Homo sapiens: one gene and its partner. The protein of the gene in region 1 purifies or fractionates together with the protein of each later gene. This does not show direct contact. Each region holds a gene or a part of one and is shown in the gene's direction. Other genes may lie near its edges.

Region 1 (4,595 bases):
CCCGAGTAGCTGGGATTACAGGCACCTGCCACCAGGCCTGGGTAACTTTCTGGTATTTTTAGTAGAGACAGGGTTTCGGCCTCCCGAGTAGCTGGGATTACAGGCACCTGCCACCAGGCCTGGGTAACTTTCTGGTATTTTTAGTAGAGACAGGGTTTCAGCCTCCCGAGTAGCTGGGATTACAGGCACCTGCCACCAGGCCTGGGTAACTTTCTGGTATTTTTAGTAGAGACAGGGTTTCGGCCTCCCGAGTAGCTGGGATTACAGGCACCTGCCACCAGGCCTGGGTAACTTTCTGGTATTTTTAGTACAGACAGGGTTTCAGCCTCCCGAGTAGCTGGGATTACAGGCACCTGCCACCAGGCCTGGGTAACTTTCTGGTATTTTTAGTAGAGACAGGGTTTCGGCCTCCCGAGTAGCTGGGATTACAGGCACCTGCCACCAGGCCTGGGTAACTTTCTGGTATTTTTAGTAGAGACAGGGTTTCGGCCTCCCGAGTAGCTGGGATTACAGGCACCTGCCACCAGGCCTGGGTAACTTTCTGGTATTTTTAGTAGAGACAGGGTTTCGGCCTCCTGAGTAGCTGGGATTACAGGCACCTGCCACCAGGCCTGGGTAACTTTCTGGTATTTTTAGTAGAGACAGGGTTTCAGCCTCCCGAGTAGCTGGGATTACAGGCACCTGCCACCAGGCCTGGGTAACTTTCTGGTATTTTTAGTACAGACAGGGTTTCGGCCTCCTGAGTAGCTGGGATTACAGGCACCTGCCACCAGGCCTGGGTAACTTTCTGGTAGTTTTAGTAGAGACAGGGTTTCAGCCTCCCGAGTAGCTGGGATTACAGGCACCTGCCACCAGGCCTGGGTAATTTTTTTGCATTTTTGGTAGAGACAGGTTTTTGCTGTGTTGGCCCGGCTGGTCTCAAACTCCTGACCTCAGGTTGACCTGCCCGCTTTGTCCCTCGCAAAGTGCTGGGATTACAGGCGTGAGCCACCGCACCTGGCCTGAATCTGAACTTTTAAAAGGGAGTTACTGACTCTCAACTGTGCGGGGACGGTTTCAGTTTGATTTAATATGGAAAGAGGGCCAAGTGTCATCCTCACAAATGGGTCCCCGAAGCAGATCAAACGCAGAGAACTGTGAGGGTGGGACACGAGTGTCTGTGGACACTGGCTGCCTTTGGCTTTTCTCCTGCGAGAGAAGTTGGGTGACTTTCTGTAGGTGGATGAGTGATCCCTGAATGAGTGTGGGGTACGTGTATGCTAGCTGCTTCTTTCTCCCTGAAACTCTCGGATGGAAGGAAGTAAGAAATTCAGCTTGGGCTGTGACCAGTTCTCACCACCAACGCCCTCTTCTCTCTCCCTTCTCCTTCCTTCCTTCCTTCCTTTCTTTCTTTTTCTTTCTTTCTCTCTTTCTTTCTTTTCTTTCTTTCTGTTTCTTTCCTTTTTATCTTTCTCTCTTTTTCTTTCTCTTTTCCTTTTTTGTTTCTTTCTTTCTTTTTCTTTCTTTCTTTTTCTTTCTTCTTTCTTTCTTCGATGAAGTCTCACTCTGTCACCCAGGCTGGAGTGCAGTGGTGCAATCCCAGCTCACTGCATCCTCTACCTCCTGGCTTCAAGAAATTCTCCTGCCTCAGCCTCCCAAGTAGCTGGGATGACAGGCACCCACCACCATTCCCGGATAATTTTTGTATTTTTTAGTAGAGACCGGGTTTCGCCATGTTGGCCAGGCTGGTCTTGAACTCCTGACCTCACATGATCCACCCGCCTCAGCCTCCCAGAGTGCTGGGATTACGGGGTGAGGCACCGCGCCCGGCCTCCTCTCTCTTTTTCTGAGATGTTTAGGAAGGACTGGGCTGATGGGGACCCTCTGTATGTGATGTGCGTGGGTTTGGTTTCCCGGAAGGCCCTCCAGAGACACGTTTGCGTGAACATTCAGCATGGAAACAACATACGTCTCTCCACAGGAGGTGAGAAATTGAATTTATGGGGTGGGTGTACGCTGGCGATTCTTGGTGCTTTTTGCTCAAAACAAGGTTCTTTTGAAAGTCACGTTCCTGCTTTCCCTGTGGCTTCCCGGTGAGCTCGCTCGCAGAGCAAGGAATACCACCCAGAGAGCAACGTGGGCTGTGTTCCGATGTAACGCCGTTGCAGAGAGAGGATTTGGTGTGTGAGATCCGTACCAGCTCCAGCACACTGATAGGAACACGTTGCTGGCCGAACTGAACGATGCTGGGTTGGGTCCTGATTGATACGTATTTTCTTCCCTCCTCTCCCCAAAACTTGGCCAAATAGTCCGTGGAGGGTTGTCAGTCGCCGCAGTTGAGCAAAAAACACTTCTTCCTTTGAGTGGCTGTTCTGGTGAAATCTGTTTCTGACATATCCACTTTTCTCTCTCTTTTCTCTCTCTCTGACTGCGAAGCACCCACAGGGAGAAGGAATTGGATGTATCGGATGTTGCTATTAGATTTTCTTTCTCCGTTCGAGTCTCTGACTGGTGCATACTTTGCAAAGGTGTGTTCCTGGCAATTGCCAAGAGTTAGAAAAATGCACCTTCTCTGGTGGCCGTTGGGGTGTTGTTTCACAGGCAGTGGTGACAGGGCCCCTTGGCTGTGGCTGTCTTCTCCAGCGCCGTGGATAAAGAGATGGGACAGATTCTGTGCCTCTGTACGATTTAGAGCGTAACTGACCGCGTCCAACACCCGTTTTTCCACTTACAAAGCTGGTGGTGCGACGGGCTTGGTGTCTCCCGTACGGGAAGGAGGCCTTTGGGCCGCTCCAAAGACGCCCTGTCGTAGGAATGGCCTCTCCATCCCGCCAAAGTCCAGCCAGGCCCCCGAAATGGTCCCATTTCCTTGGAAGCCTGAGTTTCTGTTCTGGTCTTGCTGCTGTCCTTGGCCACGTCAGCACGTGGGAGCATCTGTGGATACCGCAGAGTCTGGGGACAGCTGGGCGTTTAACCGAAATGAAGCCGAGACGGGTTTCAGGTTTTGGTGCCAAGCTCTGGTCAGGATGAAAGGGAAATACCAGAGTCCTCTGTCCTCGCCTCTGGGTTTCATGCTGACCTTTCTAACATTTGTTTTCCCCTAAGAACAAGCAGAAGCCTCCAGCTCCCTTTAGCTCCACAGTTTTCCCGGGGACATAGCGAGGATGGCACACGGCAGCCACTCCCACGACACACATTTCGGAGGCACTTTGCTGGAAGCCGCTTGTCTCCTCCAGCTTTGGGAGGTCTGGGGAGGAGAGAGGCTTTCGGTGGACACGTTTGACATTAAAAAAAAAAAAAAAAAAAAAAAAAAACTGGTGCCTAATTTATTAAAGAGAATTAGCTTAGCGAGTATATGCTGATATTCTTCGACACACGTGGGTAAGTTGATGCCATTTATAAATGTTTTATTGAAATTTGATATTTAATGAGAAGCCGGTTAAGGAATGTAGACAATATCCCGTTTCAAAGCTATGAAATGTGCTATTTATTGAAAGGGGATGTGGCTTCACGAGTTCAGCCCATTGTACGTGCAGGTCCCGTGGGAAGGAGGCAAAAGCCCCTGCTTCTTACTTTGTGATGTATGTGCATTTGTTATTTATTTTTTTTTCCTTGGTCGGACGTTCATAAATATGTACTATTTTAATTATGTCGAGTGTAAATTTGACATCGCGTTGCATTTATTTTTATATTTCTGAAAACTGTTGCTTTTTCTTTTTCCCTCCCCCATTGACGACATAGCGGCCCCCGCGTCCGGGTTACAAATACATCTACAGATATTTTCAGGGATTGCTTCAGATGAAAACAAATCACACACCGTTTCCCAAACCAACAGTCTTCACATTTCTATCCCTCTGTTATTGTCGGCAGGCGGTGAGGGGTAGAAAAAAAACAAACAAACAAACAGAAAAAAAAACCAAAAAAAACCACCCTGAGTTTCTCTGGTGACGCCCTCATTCTCCTAACGTTCAATAATCTCAATGTTGAGTTGCAGCAACAGACTGTATTTTTGTGACGCCCCGTAGTATGAATGTACATCTTGTAAAACTGAGATATAAATAAACTTATAAATATTTGTATTCAAGTGTTAAAAAAAAAAAAATTCTCAACCTCTCCCCTGAGGACAGGCTTATTGGAAAAAAAAAAAAAAAAAAAAAATCCTGAGTCGGCCGTGGCTGAACACAGAGTGTTGTTCTGCTCCGTGCATTTCCAGGGTGGGTACCCAGTGTTGCCCCCCAGCCTTAGATCGGGAGGTACCATTGACTTTTGCTTGTATCCCATCCCCTTCCTTTACTGAAACCTACCTCCCCGCTTCTCAGCCAACGTCCCCCCAGAAGGTGGCAAAAAAAACAGAGGAAAAAGCCCTGATTTGAATCAAGTCAGAGCTGCTAATTCTCCACTTTCTTTAATTAATTAATTTATTTTTTTTTTTGAGACTGAGTCTCGCTCTGTCGCCCAGGCCGGAGGAGTGCAGGGGCGCGATCTCGGCTCACCGCGACCTCCGCCTCCCGGGTTCAAGCGACTCTCCTGCCTCAGCCTCCCGAGTAGCTGGGATGACAGTCACCTGCACCACCGCGCCCGGCTCATTTTTGTATTTTTAGTAGCAATGGGGTTTC
Region 2 (4,418 bases), on another chromosome or scaffold:
AGCAAAGGCTCTCTTCTCCGGTCATGCGGGAGGGTCTACCCATAGACTTCTGGGAAGGCCAGATGTGAGGGAGGCCAGGGAGTTAATAGGTAATGCCCCCAAACAGCTCTCAACCCATGACTAATGGAGATTTGAGAATGAGTATCTCAGCTCCCCTTGTTCTTGGGGGCAGCAATGATGTAAGGCCTATGTTCTACGCTGGCTCCCAGAATCCCCAGCAGGATTTGGTCCCAATGGCCCACAGTGGTAGCTTGCTTGATGACACTTCCTTTATTGGCTGCTTTCCTTGTCTCCTTGCCACTGCTGGTGTTTCTTGGCCTCACCTCCCATACTAACTATATGCATGTATATCTTTGTCCAGGTCTGCTTTGGGGGAAACTAAGATAAGCACTGTCCATGAAAGGGGGACAAGGCAGTGAGCAGACACAGACAACTGCAAGGACCTCTTCCCACAGGTACCACTGACCTGTACAAATGGGCCCTCAGCTTGAAGACTTAGCTAATACTCTGAATGCTCAGAAGATAGGCAGGGCCAAGGTCTGGGCCTGAGGTAGGTGGGCCCCTGTCACACTAGTTTGCTCTTGCTTGACCCCAGAATTGGTTAGAGGCAAGCTCAGGATACTAAAAATTGATAGTTATAATGTGCCTTGGGTCCCAGAGTAGCCCAGGTCTCTCAGGCCCTACAGGATGAGGCCAGAGTGACCCACTGGGAGGTCCCCTGGCCTCTGACTCTTCCAGCACATTCTCTGCTCAGTATCACTCCTTCCAGGAATTCTCCCCACCCAGGTTTGTAGAAGGGCCAGTGCCTTCTGTTCCTCCACCCCCGCTAGCCTCAGTGTACACTGTAAGACCTATTCCTGCTTTATGCCCAGGTAAGGGCGCCCCAGGCTGCCCCCACACGACAGAGGCCCAGGCCATGTCCCCAGTGGCCTCCAGGGGGCGCCGCCGGGAAGCCTGTAATTGGGCTCCTGGGAGCTCCGCGGAGGTGGGCAGGCGCCGGCCCCTCAAGCCCTCGGGTTCGGCTGGCCTGCTCGACACAGCCTGCGCACCCAGGCTGGGTCGGGCTCAGAACTGCCCCTTGCCATACACGTGTTGTGTCGCTCGCCGCTGCCTCATTTCTACTCTTGCCCGAGGTCGGACGCTAAATTCTGTCAGGCCCAGTGTCCAAGTGTCCGTTTATCTGTCCGTTTGCATATGACCGTAGATCGGCACGCCCTGCTCCAGCTGCGGCATGTGCAGGGTTAAGGCGAGAGGAGGTTTCCCTGAGTCGGAGGGGGAGGGGGGCGAGGGGCGGACCTGGCCCAGCCCCGCCCCGCGCCGGAGCAGTGCCGGAGCCCCGCCAGAGCCCGACTTCAGCCCCAGCCAGATCCCGCGTCAACGGAGGCGGAACGGCGGACCCCGTACCCTGGCAGCATCGGAGCACCGGCGGGTGAGTCCCGCGGGAACCGCGCTCAGGGGAAGTTTGGGGCGCGGGGTGTAGAACCCCAAGCGCGTTAGCCCAGACCCGCCCCCCACATCCTTGAGCTGGAAGTTTGGGGCCAAGAGGCCCTCCTGCCAGGGGTCCAGGAGTGTAGCCACCAAGAGAAAGGGGTGGCTGGAGAACTTGGGGATCTCCTGCGAGGGAACCCAGAAGTCCAGCTGCCCATTCCTGGTGGAAACGCCCTGGACTCAGACCCTGGAGTCCTGTGGTCATGAGATTTCTCCAACGGCCCCCCGCCCCAACCCCACTTCTGGACACCAGGGAATCTGGCTTCTGGGGGGGTTTGGAATGGGCAAACTCCTGAGGGGGGACCTCGAGAGGAGAGTGTGGAACCCTGGTGTTTAGTCCTCCCCCTAGTCTGAAACACACCCTGACTCTGGTCTTTTACTAGTGGGAATGGTTTAAATTAACCCTGTGGAATGGCCCCCAGGATGTTGTAAGGATACTCTGGAGTCTGACCCCTGACAGCAGGCGTGGGGACCCCCAGGCTGCCCAGGGCACCCTGGAAGCCAGTAAGGACTCCCCTCATGCAGGACCAGCGTGAGGCTTGTTGAGGGGAAAGGAAGGGTCCTGGATGGAGAGTCCTGTTCTAGTCACCTTACTACTGCCCTCCTAGACCCAGATTTGACCCAGTTGCTGAGTGGTTTGGGTAGTGGGTGAGAAGGAGAATCCTTCATGCCTCCATGGGAAAGGGGAAAGGCTCCTGGGTACCTGGGGCCTGCCCTCCTTCCCACTCCAGGAGGGCCTCCACAGTGGTGTGCTAGCCAGAGGGGTTGGGTTCTCCCCCTGCCTTTCCCACCAGTGATTTTGGGCCAGCCCTGCCCTTAGCTACAGGCTGCTTATTTGTTTCCTGAGGGGCCGGTCAGTGCCCTGACCCCTGTTTTCCCTCTTTCCTCCAGGTGAAGGCAAGGTCCCTGGACTGGTCATATACCTCTTGTGGCCCTGGCAGAATCAAGATGAGGCCCTGTCATGCCTCCCCAGTGAGGCCTACAGTCTGAGCAGACAGCATGGCCTGCCACTGGCAGTGAACACCATGTCTGCAGGAGGTGGCCGGGCCTTTGCTTGGCAAGTGTTCCCCCCCATGCCCACTTGCCGGGTCTATGGCACAGTGGCACACCAAGATGGGCACCTGCTGGTGTTGGGGGGTTGTGGCCGGGCTGGACTGCCCCTGGACACTGCTGAGACACTGGACATGGCCTCGCACACATGGCTGGCACTGGCACCCCTGCCCACTGCCCGGGCTGGTGCAGCTGCGGTAGTTCTGGGCAAGCAGGTGCTAGTGGTGGGTGGTGTGGATGAGGTCCAGAGCCCGGTAGCTGCTGTAGAGGCCTTCCTGATGGATGAGGGCCGCTGGGAGCGTCGGGCCACCCTCCCTCAAGCAGCCATGGGGGTTGCAACTGTGGAGAGAGGTGAGTGGCCTCCCAAGGAAGGCACTTCAGGTACCCTAACACCTTTTATTATTTCCTGACTTAGTCCCTTACCCTCAGAGACTGAACAAGAGCTGTAATTTTTACATGGGTGCCCAGGATGTGGCCTTGTCCCCTGTATCCTTTCCAACCTAGATTTGAGCTGCTGCCTTCTATTAACTGCCTTTTCTGGCTAAGGTGGGAGGCAGAGCCCAAGCCGATCCCAGGATGATGGGAGACCCCAGCCATGTTCCTGCCCCACTCCTCATTTCTAAGAGATGGGGGTGGGATGGCCTAATGACTCCCAGGGTTATAAATAGTCTGGGGTGGGGGAGAGGAGTAGGGCCTTGGCTCAGAGCCTGTGCTTAGACTTCCTGCCCCACCCCCAACCCTTCCCACACGCCAGGGAGCCTGATATGGACAAAGGCCAAGCTGATCTGGGATGGTTGCCATGGAAGCCCCCAGCTGACTGGCCCATTACCCTAAGGCCCCCAGACATGTCGTAGCTGACTCTGAGGGTTTAACAGAGGGCAAGAACCTACTATAATGAAAGAGTGTCACACAGAGGTGCTGGCAGGGATCCTGGGGCAGAAGGCTTGTGGACAGTATCTTTACCCAGCAGACCCAAGCCATTCCTCTCCCAGCCCCATCTCCAACTCCAGCTGGTCCCCAGTCCTCCTCCCCAGACTGAGCTCTGTGCTAAGCAGATCCCCATGTTTCTTACCCCTGGCTTAAGCCATCCCCCCATCTTCCTCCCCGAGGGGAGTCCCCACCTTGTGGCCTCCAGGTCTGACCACCAGCCCAGGCCAGCCCTGCTTGGATGCCAGACTCTGTTGCCATAGCATCTCCAGGGAGACAGAGTCGGATTATAATTAGATCGGCTGCCTCCTGCTCTTTACTCGGAGGGGCCCTGGCCAGAGTAGGAATCCCAGATCTCCCAGCCCCCACTGCAGGCAGGTAGTAGAGTGTCTGTTGCTGGGGAGGGATGCTATAAACACATGGGTCTCCAGCCACCCCCAGGACTTACCAGGGCAGCTGTCAGGGTGGGGTACCCTGGCAGGCTGAGGTACAATCTGAACTACTCTTTTCTATGCAGATGGTATGGTGTATGCTCTGGGGGGAATGGGCCCTGACACGGCCCCCCAGGCCCAGGTACGTGTGTATGAGCCCCGTCGGGACTGCTGGCTTTCGCTACCCTCCATGCCCACACCCTGCTATGGGGCCTCCACCTTCCTGCACGGGAACAAGATCTATGTCCTGGGTAAGGGCCTGGGGAATGTGGGAAGGGGGCTCAGAGTCTAGAAATCCTCATCCTCATAGGTTGGCTGGGATAGGGATCAGGCTCAGTCCAGGATGGCAAAACAAGAGAAGCTTTGTTGGGGTGATCCATGCCTGCTCTGAGGCTCTGACCCCTGGTGGTCTTGCTGTGGTTGGAAAACCAAACCCCAGTACCTGAGGGACTGTAGGGTGGATGATTCATGTGCAAGTGTGCACACAGCAGGATGTGGGAGGCTGAGGCAGGCAGATTAGCA

Evidence for each region.
Region 2: the proteins of SHOX (region 1) and KLHDC8B purify together in Homo sapiens (affinity purification with mass spectrometry; one large-scale study listed by BioGRID and IntAct). This does not show direct contact.

What each region holds. Positions count from the first base shown.
Region 1 is NC_000023.11:647,527-652,121, forward strand, and holds the end of SHOX (short stature homeobox protein), read left to right. Parts: 3' UTR 1-4,058; downstream 4,059-4,595. UniProt on the Homo sapiens protein: Controls fundamental aspects of growth and development.
Region 2 is NC_000003.12:49,170,257-49,174,674, forward strand, and holds the start of KLHDC8B (kelch domain-containing protein 8B), read left to right. Parts: upstream 1-1,341; 5' UTR 1,342-1,429; intron 1,430-2,379; 5' UTR 2,380-2,513; coding exon 2,514-2,889; coding exon of another isoform or gene 2,890-2,919; intron 2,920-3,982; coding exon 3,983-4,147; intron 4,148-4,418. UniProt on the Homo sapiens protein: Involved in pinching off the separated nuclei at the cleavage furrow and in cytokinesis. Required for mitotic integrity and maintenance of chromosomal stability.